Homo sapiens: one gene and its partners. The protein of the gene in region 2 purifies or fractionates together with the protein of the main gene of each other region. This does not show direct contact. Each region holds a gene or a part of one and is shown on either strand. Other genes may lie near its edges. The genes, in order: ARB2A, STYX and CAP1.

Region 1 (3,755 bases), on a different chromosome or scaffold from region 2:
TTAAAAATTATTTAGCAGTGTTTTTTTTTAAAATGTGATTCCCTTTTCCCTCTTTTTTCTTTTTTGAGACAGAGTCTCACTCTGTTGCACAAGCTAAGTGCTGTGGTGCAGTCATGGCTTAGTGCAGCCTTGACTTCCTGGCCTCAAGCAATTCTCCAGCCTCAGCTTGCCAAGTAGCTGGGACTACAGGTGCACACCACCACACCTAGCTAATTTTTGATTATTTGTAGAGACAGGGTCTCACTATGTTGCCCAGGTTGGTTTCGAACTCCTGGACTCAAGTGGTCCTTTATCGAGCAGCATTTTAATATAAAAAATACATTTTTATCATCTGAAAATAAGTTTCTTTCAGTTCTAAGTGATTACTGTGGACTTCAAAGTGCCAGTATTCCATTGCTTAAAAAATTGACTGAGTTTCTTGGTAACAGGGGACTTAGTCAAATAGGAAAAAAGAGACAGTGATCAGCACCTACTGGAATATCTGTACTACAGGTTTTTTCATGAAGGTGAATAGATATCCATCTCCATAGCCATTCCAGGATCCATTAAGGCCTCACTGACCTTAAGAGACACTTTTCTTTGTGCGTGTTTAGACATAGTGTTTGGTAATTGAGTGACTAGAAACCCCTGTGGCCTCTTTCTTGTTATACACTGACAGCTCTGCCTTTCAATTTTTTTATTTTGTTCTTATCATCATTACTTTTTTTTTAGGCTTCTTTAACTGAGCAATTCTCCTATTTTTATATAATGTTCCTAGGTAAAAGGGAATTTTTCTTCTTAGGTTTGGTTTTCCTGTGTCTGTCATCCACTTATCTTTCTGTGTGGCTGTAGTCATATTTATTGTCATCATTATACTTTGTTTACTCTGGACATAGCATGCAGGTGAAGCTAATATGATTGTGTTACACTTCATATCTCTCTTCCTGTATTTTTAGCTATTGCTAATAAAATTATAGTTATGTCATTTTAATTCTTTAACATTGTATAGCTCTTGTAAAATTCTCTATAATTATGTACTAGTTTAATCTTCAGTATATGCTTTCTGAACCAGGCAAGTATTATAACCATTTTAGAGGATCCATTATTTAGTTAAATGTCTTTTATCTAAAGGAAGTCACTGGTGAGGCTTGATAAGATTCCTCATTCCAAAAGTTTATTGTTTTTAATTACTGAGTGCCTACAATGTGCTAGGTTTTATTTTAGGTACTGAGACTATATAAGTGGATACAAACGAGAGAACTCTGTGCCTGCCTGGACTTACGTTCTAGTGGAGGGAGCAGGCCGTGAATAAACACATTTGCAAAAATGTAGAGTAAAGCATACAATATGTTAGATCTTGGTATGTGCCGTGGAGGAAAATAAAACAGGGAAGGGGACTATGGAATTCTCGGGACATGTTTGGAATTTTAAAAGTGGTAGTCAGGGAAGGCTTCAATGAAAAGGTGTTATTTCTTCTTTAAGACCTGTGTCCATGCTGCTCTTGCTGAAATAATTGCCATTTTTGCTGTGTTTGCACAAATGCCTAAGCCATCTCTTACTGAAACTAGCCTGATTGTTTTAGAAGTACAGATATTTTATTTTATTTTATTTTATTTTATTTTTCTCTTCCTAAGCGTAATGACTGGGAGTATTTAGAATCCAGGGCTTTTTTTGGGGGGGGGGGGGGCATCTAGAGTTTTTGTATACTTCCTATTTTGATAATTGTATGAACATATACAGTTGACAAAGTGAAGAGCTATTACGTTACACAATATGTGGATTGACCTTCTTTATGTAAGAGTACCAGCCACCAGAATGTCAACTTTCTGCTTGATCTGGCTATTGAAAGGCTTCCATTTCCAGTCACTCGCCAGTGCTGATGTGGTATACCACTCAGTGTGTCATGGCATATGTAACAAAAGGTTGGGAAGTTATCTCTTTCTAAAAGTGTTTTGTGTCTTTCAAATGTAAATCATACATCATATAGTTAACAATCTAAATATTAAGTACAATCAAAATGGATAAAAATATTTACTTTTTATTCTGTAAGTAACTAGTTTATAAAGTAAGTTCATTGGAGTACATAATGTGGCTTTGTAAAAATAATTGTTATATAATCCTGTGTTCACAATCTGAATGAAATTTGGAAGTCCATTTACATAGATCAGGTAAGAATAGAATAGATGGTTAGTTTTTAAATAGTTTCCTCTTCTTCCCCTTAAAAGTTTAGTGGTATTCCTGGCTGATATATGATTTTCCAATACGTCTATCTCCAATTTTAGTTTTCTATTTTTTATTATAGGTGCAATATATTTCTGTTATACAACTATAGACTTATAGTTGTGTGACCGTGGGCAACTTATTTAAACTCCCTAAGCCTCAATTTCTTCATCTATAAATCAATATAATAATAGTACCACCTAAATGGGTTGTTATTGAATGAGATAATGTTTTTACAACAGGTAGCATAGCAGCTAGACTATAGGAGGCACTAAAAAAGTAGTTATTTTTATTTACAATGATAATATAATACTAAATATACAATAATAATGAAGAGAAACATATTACCAATATTTTTTGTATTTTTATATTTAAATTACTATCATGTCTTGTCCCATCCAACTAATATATAATTGTTAACCTCTACTGAATATTTTAATTTTGTGTTAAAATTGTTTTTTACTTCTATAATTCTATAGTAACCATTTAATACTTTGTAACAGCCATTAGTTGTTTTTTCATTTATGTGTATGCCTGATCAGAAGACATTTATTTATTATTTAATTTTATTTAATTACAGGTAGATGCCACTGAGAGTGAACCAAAGAGTTTTATCTTTATGAGTGAGGATGCTTTGACAAATCCACAGAAACTGATGGTTTTAATTCATGGTAGTGGTGTTGTCAGGGCAGGGCAGTGGGCTAGAAGACTTATTATAAATGAAGATCTGGACAGTGGCACACAGATACCGTTTATTAAAAGAGCTGTGGCTGTAAGTACAATTTCCTGGGTTTTTTTTTTTGGCATTTTATAGTACTGTTTTATTATATGTTTTTATGTTTCTTCAAAAAGTATATCCTAAGCATAATCTTATCTTTGGGTTGTTATTATTTATTTTACTTGTATGAAAGATTATTCTGCATTATTTTGCAGTTACAAAGAAACACAAAGTGGCATCTTGAGCATACAAAGATTTAAATAATGTCTTTTGAGTGAATTATTTTTCTAAAATATTTTTAATCCTGTGAAATATGACAGGGTTAATATTTTCTAAAAATATTTTTAATCCTGTGAAATATCAATTATCAAACTATCAAATATTTATCAACATTATTGAAAATAACTTCTGACAAAAATATCATGACTGCTTTTGTAAACCTTTGCCTACCTAATTTGGTAAAGTTAGAAACTAAAGGAGATCTGCTACTTTGAATTAATCTCATATTATTTAAAGGAAGAGTTGGAATAACTAAATTTTTTTGTCGTTTCTTTAAAATGTTTTTTAGAGCCCACAAATAAAATGCTTTAAGCATGAGACATAGACATACAGAATGGCAAAATGTAATGTTTAATGAATACTTTATTCTTATTTGCATTCAAACTTTTTAGAAACTCCTATTTTTAAATTGTGTTCAAGGTTTCTTTTCTTGCAATAGTGAAATGTTTTTCTGACATAATATTGGCATATTTTAATGTTTGACTGCTTTTGTTTTACTATTGCATTCATAAGTTCCATAGTGAACAGCCCAATTTTGCAAAGTGTGAATTTCTTTCAC
Region 2 (3,755 bases):
AGAGAAGGTGGGCAGGGACTGGAGGGGCAGAAGAGTACTCAAGTAAGATATTTTCTAAACCAGCAATTTTTAAACCTGACTGAACATTAGAATCATCTAGCTTCATTCAGATAAATTAAACTACAATAGGTGCTGGTAGGGTCCACGCATCAGTATTTTTAAAAAATTCCTTACTCTAGAGTAAGGGTTAAAAAGCACCATTCTAAATAAAGGAGCTAGAAAAGGAATCCTCAGCCATGTATGTTAAATAATTCCTATCTTTGATCCTGTACTACGGGATTCACAAGAAAAATGGAAAGGGAAACATGGAAAGTTGCTAAACTGCAATGGAAATAAATATTTCACTTTCTGTCAGAAGAGAAGATAAAACATTAACTTTTAAATTATAAAACCAATAGCCCCAGCTACAACCAATTTGCTTAAAAATTGGTACTATCAGCTACTCCTTCTTCCTAATATCTAAGCTCTCTTATGAAAGGTTCAGTCTAAATGGAAAATAGACAATGACCAAAAATTGTTAAATGTTACAAAGGTAAGTATTAAAGTACCAAGTGCCATAGTAGCTGGGGAATTGAACCAGTCTAGAGGATGAGGAAAGGAGTTAGAGAAACTGGCAAACAGGAAAAGCTTCTCTGAAGAAATGTTGCCTAAAGTGGGATCTAACCCAAGGGTAAGCAGTTAATTAGGTGAGGGTAAGGAAGGTGCTGGCAGCCAAGGCAGGGGAAAATAGCAAACATAAAGGCTCTGAAGGCGGGGGGTGGAAATTAAAGCATTCCAGGAACTGAGAGAAGATAAATATGGCTAGGGCTTACAGAGAAAGGAGCAAGAAGAGTAGCTCATAATGAGGTTAGAGAGGTATGCAGATGTCAGACCATACAGGACCCTGGAAATAATGTCAAGGGTTTAAATTTCATCTTCAAAACAATGGAAATTCATGAAAAAGTTTTAAACAAAAAAAGTAACAATCTTTTCACAAACTGACTGATCTAAATTTTTGTTAGCACTGTCCTATACAAAGAATACCAATATTTCAAGAAACGTGAAAGTAATATTCTTGTAGAGGTGACAGAATCATCAACCTATCATAGCTTGATCACATTAACATTAAAAGCATTCCCTGAACTCTCTGCTTGAATTCAGTTTTTATTAAATTTGGTCTGTAATTTGGATTTCCAGGTAGTGCTCCCTGTGTCAAAGAAACAATGCTGGCTGATCACTCTAACTACTTAAGACCATTTGACACTTTACATTATCTCACTGGAGATTAGAAAATTAACAGTGCTTATTAGTCAGTTTATTATGAATAACTATATGCTCCTATTTAATAGTTTATTTATGTGGCCCCTATGTATAGTTTTATCAGCCCAGAAAGTACCCTCTACCTGTGGAAATGTTCCTATGGTTTTGGTGGGAGGGCTACCAACAATAAACTTCACTCCTCTAGCCAAGGAATTAGGGATATGACCTAGATGGGGCCCCTCATTGTATCTGCCCTTTCCTGGCTACAGTGACTGATCCAAAGTGTGGGAACATGAATTAAATTGGGCAATTCCTCTAGATTTCAAACACAGAAGCTGGAAGTGTTCAGTTTTATTCCTCAATAACCAAGCTCATAAAGGTGTGACCCCAGATGGCCAAGCTTCACATCTTGGAGAAGCCAGAGAGAAAGCAGAGACTCCGAGAGAAAGTAGAGATAAGAACTCATGAGAGACAAAGGCAGTTCTGATGCTTTATAATACCTGGGTTTGGTCAAATCCTTGAAACTAGCTGCACCACTACCCTTCTGGATTTAATTACTTTTTTTTTTTTTGAGATGGAGTCTCGCTCTGTCTCCCAGGCTGGAGTGCAGTGGCTAGATCTCGGCTCACTGCAAGCTCCGCCTCCCGGGTTCATGCCATTCTCCTGCCTCAGCCTCCCAAGTAGCTGGGACTACAGGCGCCCGCCACCATACCTGGCTAATTTTTTTTTAAGTAGAGACGGGGTTTTACCGTGTTAGCCAGGATGGTCTTGATCTCCTGACCTCGTGATCCGTCCGCCTCGGCCTCCCAAAGTGCTGGGATTACAGGCGTGAGCCACCACGCCCGGCCGGATTTAATTACTTCTTCTTTTTCTTAAATTCGTTTTTGTTGCTTGCAACCAAAAGATACCAAACATGCAATATTAAGAAATACGGAACGAATTGGCTTTCAGCAGACAATACTTGCATCATTATCCACTAGCTTTAACCATTACCTCTGTCCCTGTGATATAATATGAAATACATGGTCTTTCTCTCCAGTTCCTGTCACAGTCCTCCTAAAACTCTTGGAATTTTCTAATAGGAGTGTCTTTGGTTATTTATGAGCCACTATTTTTGATCAAACCTGATTATGCTAATGAAGTGATTTAGGGTGGGGCCAGTCACCAGAAAGACCATGTGACAAGAGGGTTGAACTCTCAGCCTCACACACACACACACCTCTATGGGAGGGGATGGAGATGAAGTTCTATAAAAACCGTTGAATAAGATTTGTTGAGCTTCTGGATGAAAACACTGGAGGTGCTAGTGAGGCAGGTGAATAGGGTCTGGAGGCAGGGAATCTAAGGCTGTTTCACCCCGACTTCCCAGAACTAACTTGAAGGGAAAACCCTAACTTTCCACGCCTAAGTAACAAAAGGACCAGAGGCTACTCCCGTTGCAAACCACCTACCTTTTCTGCACAGTAGACGGGAAATTGGCTGTCCTCAACAAATCAGACTGACTGCGGGTGGAATCTTCGTTTGCAACTTTGTAACTTCACTCTAGCCACTGAATGGTCGCTGTCCACAACCAAGCGGACTGATGTGGGGGTGGGTCTGGCAACCAATCAGACCAATTGCAAGCCACCTCTTCATTTACATGAGGTGAGCATGGAATGGCCAATGGGAAAGTTCTAGGGGGTATTTGGACCCAAGAAGATTCGGTAAAGCAGCGGGGGTCGGGGGGGAGTGCTGCTAGGGCAGCTCCCACACTGTGGAGTGTACTTTTGTTTTCAATAAATCCCTGCTTTTGTTCTTTTGTTGCTTCATTCTTTCTTTGCTTGGAGTTTTGTCCAATTCTTTGTTCAAAACGCCAAGAACCTGGACAGCTTGCAATCATGACTCTACTGGTGACACTGGGATGGTGGTGTGCCCCTTCCCCCATACCTTGCCCTATTCATCTCTTCCTACTGGCTGTTCACTGATCTTTTGTAGTATCCTTTATAATAAACCCGTAAATGTACTTCCCTGAGTCCTGTAAGTCACTCTAGCAAGTTAACTGAACCAAGGAGGGAGTAACGGGAACCCTGATTTACAGTCAGTCAGGAGTGTATAGGTGACAACCTACTACTTGTGATTACCATCTGAGGTTGGGGGCAGCCTTGCGGGACTGAGCCATTAACCTGTGGGATCTGACTAACTTCAGGTACATATGTGTCAGAATTGAATTATGGGACATTCAGTTCATGCCTGCTGGAAAACTGCTTGGTATGGAAAAACCCCCACACATCTGGTAGCATAAAAAAAAGAGTGTGTTTTCAAGTCCCACACAGAAAAGACAGGTATATATTCCCAGCAAGAATTTATCAGTTTTGCAGGAATAAGGCATACATAATGATATACACAGTAACAGATTAAATGCAAAGTCCGGGAAAATTTTAAACTAGAATTTTTAAGATTAGGGCAGGGAAGAATTGAAGTGTATTAAAAAGAACAATGAATTAGGAGGCCGAGGTCCTTCTGTGTCTTGTGCTACT
Region 3 (3,755 bases), on a different chromosome or scaffold from region 2:
CAAAGGCCTAAATTTCTGCTGAAAATTCTCAAGGTATTTACTCCTTTAGATTAAAGCTATCTCTCAAATGCCAGATACCATGACCCATTAATAAATAATTAAATCAATTTAGTGAGCTTAATGGAACAAAAGTATGAGTGCAGTGCACCAACTTCAAGTTATTTCCAAATAAAAAGTTAAAAAAAAAAAAAGTACAGCAGAAGTAGTATAAATATCATCTTGTGAAACTTTTATCTCAGTTACGAATATGTTCTTTCTTTCTAAGGGTCATTCGCAGTCAAAAGAATTTAAGAAACATGAGACTGTAAGCACTATTAAAATACAAAAATTCAAAGAAAGCAATCTATTTTTTCTGGATTTGCATTTTTAAAATACAAATGATAAATGTTTTAAAGTTTTTTCAAATGTTACAGAACTGTATTAAGTAAAAATGCAAGCCTCCACACCCTTATTAAAGTCCCAGTCCCACTCTCTAGAGCTAAAACCATTGGCAACAGATGGTATTTGAGAGGCTCAAAATAGATTTTCCAAAAGCCAAGCAACCAGTCTTCGAGAAAGGTTTAGGTGAAGAAGTTCCCAAGCATGGTTACTGTTTATAATTCGGTGAGCTAGCAGGAAGGTTTTTGGGTCCCAAAAATAGAGGTAGAATGTATATGTGAGTGTGGGGTGGGGGTGGGGGGTGGTGGTGATGACGTAGGAGGCATAAAGGAAGGTGGGAGGAAAGGCACCTGTCATTGCCTACTTCATATTCTTGCTGTGGGTTAAGTGTGAAAATAACCCACATTAGCATAACTAATAACTATCAAGCATAGTTTTATAAATGCTAAGTCATGATAATGACTCCTTTAAATAAGCCACTGTAGGTTTGATTATGTAATATGTTGGGATCAAACTGGTGCATATTCTTCACTACAAAGATGAACAGAACCATATTTTATGTACCAAGCAAGCTTTCTGTATAAATACGTGATAAAAGCAAGGGGCCTAGAAAAAAATGAGGAATCGTTTCTGTGGCTAGACTGAACTCCTCAGTACAGGCAAAAGAGAAAGAACATGTGTAATGCCCCAAACCAAGAGGAACTTCTCAAGGAGCTCTTAAACCAAGGATGAGGACCTTGGCTGACTGAAGAAAGCTGTTAGTCCTTAAAAGAAGGGGAAAAAGGCAAAACATCCTTACATGTTTCTGCACGTCTCCCCCAATCTCTTTACTGATCTTCAAGTACTCTGCCACAGGACCAGCAAGCAGCGAGTCAAATGCCTGCACATATGGAGCTGCTCCTGCTAAAGACAAACACACCACAAAGAATCAGCCATGCATCAGAAGGAGGCTTCTTTAAAACGTGCTTCTACATGAAAGTGGGGAGGCAAGGTAATACAGTCAACAGGATACAGAACAGGAGTAAGGAAACCTGGGTTCCAGGTCCAGTATCACCACTAACTGGTTGTGTGACCCTGACTAAATTCCTTTTCCTCTCTGAGCTTAATTTTCTTTATCTATAAAATGAAAATAAACAAAATGATCCTCCAAGGTTTTTTTTAGTGCTAACATTCTATGTTCCAACTGGTGCATGTGCAAAATGTCCAATTTGCCAATTGTTTGGAGAGAGGAATTTTATTATCACTTGTCATTTGACTTACATTGGAGTCATTCTGCTAAAGAAAGAGCAGGAAATATTGCACAAGCAGGAAGTTCTTGTGTTAAAATAACTTAACCACAGGCCTCCCTGTACAAGTCATTTCCTCTCTTATCTGTTCACAGCAATACAAATTACAAAAGGTAAACTTTCTAGATTAAGTTTTGGGAAGTTAGCGCCAAAGGAGAGAATAATAGAAAATTTTCAGGCCAAGACGCTCAAAGAAAGCATTCTGCTGGGCTGTGGACTGCTTACCTTTTGAAGGACTGTCTGCATACCCACGGTGCATGTCAGAGGTATGAGATACTGCCTCCAGGCGGCCCACTGCCCTCTCCAATCTTTCTACCAGATTTTGCATGTCAGCCATAATGGACCACCTGCTGAAACAGATCAAATGTCATTTGTTATTTAAATATTAAATAGCACCTACAGAGAAAAAAACAGAAAATTCCTGGTCATCCCCAGGTGGATGAAGAGGATGCCAATTCTCAGGAACAGAATAATTTAATAAAATTAGATATCATCTGCAAAATGGAACAATACAAAAATATCAGATAAAAAAGTAGCATATTTACAAAATCAAAAGACCTCATTAAGCAAGAGAACTGCTCAGGAAAAGGTGTTCACTAAAGTAAATGCTTACTCATTCAAATACTCAATATTTACTATGATACTGTGTGTAGAAAGTTAGAATTTGCAAAGGATAGTCACATACATTATCTCAGTTTGAGCCTCCCGACAACTATTCAGGAATAGAAGGATGATTACTACACGCTTAGAGATAGAAAACTTAGTTTCAGTGAAGCTAAATGACTTGTCTAGTCACACGGCCAGTGAATAGAGAAGCCAGTACTCCATCATATCCTTATCTGATCCTTCTGGTTCTAAGTTCAGTGTGTTTTTTTCCTACAACATCCTGCTGCCTGCATGTGAAATATCCCAAACCAAGATGAATAGGATGTTTACTCTTCCCTCAATAATTTTTTTTTTTTCAGACAAAGTCTTACAATGTCACCCAGGCTGGAGTGCAGTGGCAGGATCTCAGCTCACTGCAAGCTCCACCCTGTTGGGTTCAAGGGATTCTCCTGCCTCCCAAGTAGCTAGGGTTATAGGTGTGCGCCACCATGCCCAGCTAATTTTTTGTAGTTTTAGTAGCGACAGGGTTTCACTGTGTTGGCTAGGATGGTCTTGAACTCTTGACCTCAAGTAATCCACCCGCCTTGGCCTCCCAAAGTGCTAGGATTACAGGCGTGAGCCACTGTGCCCGGCCTGCCCTCAGTAATTTATAGTCTAATGGGGAGACTTAACATATGCACTAACAACTATGAAACAAATAGAAAAAAATGTTAAGGTGACATAAGAAAGTTGCTGATAGAGAGGCATGAGATTTCAAAGAGGGGAGTAATATATCAGCTGGAAGGATCAGATAAGGATATGATGGAGAAGCTGCCATTTGAGCCAGCCTTCAAATGAAGATGAGAAAGATCTGGACATGCAGTAGGGAAGGACACTAGACACATCCAAAAGAATTTGTTATAGATCTTTCACAAGTACTATCTTATCTGAAATAGCCTAATTCAATGTCTAATATCCCAAAGAAAGTAAGCTCCAACAGAGAAAGGACCTTATATAGCTTGTTCCTTACTGTATACTCTACCATCTAGACTACTACCTGGCAGGTAGTAGATGTTCAATAAATATTTATGAAGTTATAAACCTCACAAATAGCATTCCAAAACTCCAGAGGGATAAGGGTGCTAAAAGTTGCCCATAAGTCACACATAAGTGTAAAATATGATCAATGCACCTCTACATAAAGTATTTGAGACCCTAAGTGATCTCATAAAAACCAGTCAGTGAAATTTCAATCCAAGCTTTGACTTGGAAAGATTCCATTTCACAAAAGCGTCAATTCAGGCAACTGAATTCAGTTCAGGTAACTGAAGCTGAATGAACTCAACTCCCTTGAAGCTGCCTAAAATGACAACAGCAATTATGATTCCCCCAAAGATGACAGCATGCCAGAATTATCTCAATTTAACACATTGTCCTCCCTGTGGAAGAGATAAGCAGCTCACAAGATAAAGTAAGGAAGACAATATAGTCTCTGTCCATTCTCTG

What was found.
Region 1: the proteins of STYX (region 2) and ARB2A purify together in Homo sapiens (affinity purification with mass spectrometry; 2 studies listed by BioGRID and IntAct, with this or other methods). This does not show direct contact.
Region 3: the proteins of STYX (region 2) and CAP1 purify together in Homo sapiens (affinity purification with mass spectrometry; 2 studies listed by BioGRID and IntAct, with this or other methods). This does not show direct contact.

The regions. Positions count from the first base shown.
Region 1 is NC_000005.10:93,957,993-93,961,747, reverse strand, and holds part of ARB2A (cotranscriptional regulator ARB2A isoform 1 precursor), read left to right. Parts: intron 1-2,779; coding exon 2,780-2,971; intron 2,972-3,755. UniProt on the Homo sapiens protein: Plays a role in the regulation of alternative splicing, by interacting with AGO2 and CHD7. Seems to be required for stabilizing protein-protein interactions at the chromatin-spliceosome interface. May have hydrolase activity.
Region 2 is NC_000014.9:52,733,112-52,736,866, reverse strand, and holds part of STYX (serine/threonine/tyrosine-interacting protein), read right to left. Parts: intron 2,023-3,755; exon of another isoform or gene 1,989-2,022; intron 1-1,988. UniProt on the Homo sapiens protein: Catalytically inactive phosphatase. Acts as a nuclear anchor for MAPK1/MAPK3 (ERK1/ERK2). Modulates cell-fate decisions and cell migration by spatiotemporal regulation of MAPK1/MAPK3 (ERK1/ERK2).
Region 3 is NC_000001.11:40,057,593-40,061,347, reverse strand, and holds part of CAP1 (adenylyl cyclase-associated protein 1), read right to left. Parts: intron 2,015-3,755; exon of another isoform or gene 2,012-2,014; 5' UTR 2,002-2,011; coding exon 1,890-2,001; intron 1,282-1,889; coding exon 1,178-1,281; intron 1-1,177. UniProt on the Homo sapiens protein: Directly regulates filament dynamics and has been implicated in a number of complex developmental and morphological processes, including mRNA localization and the establishment of cell polarity.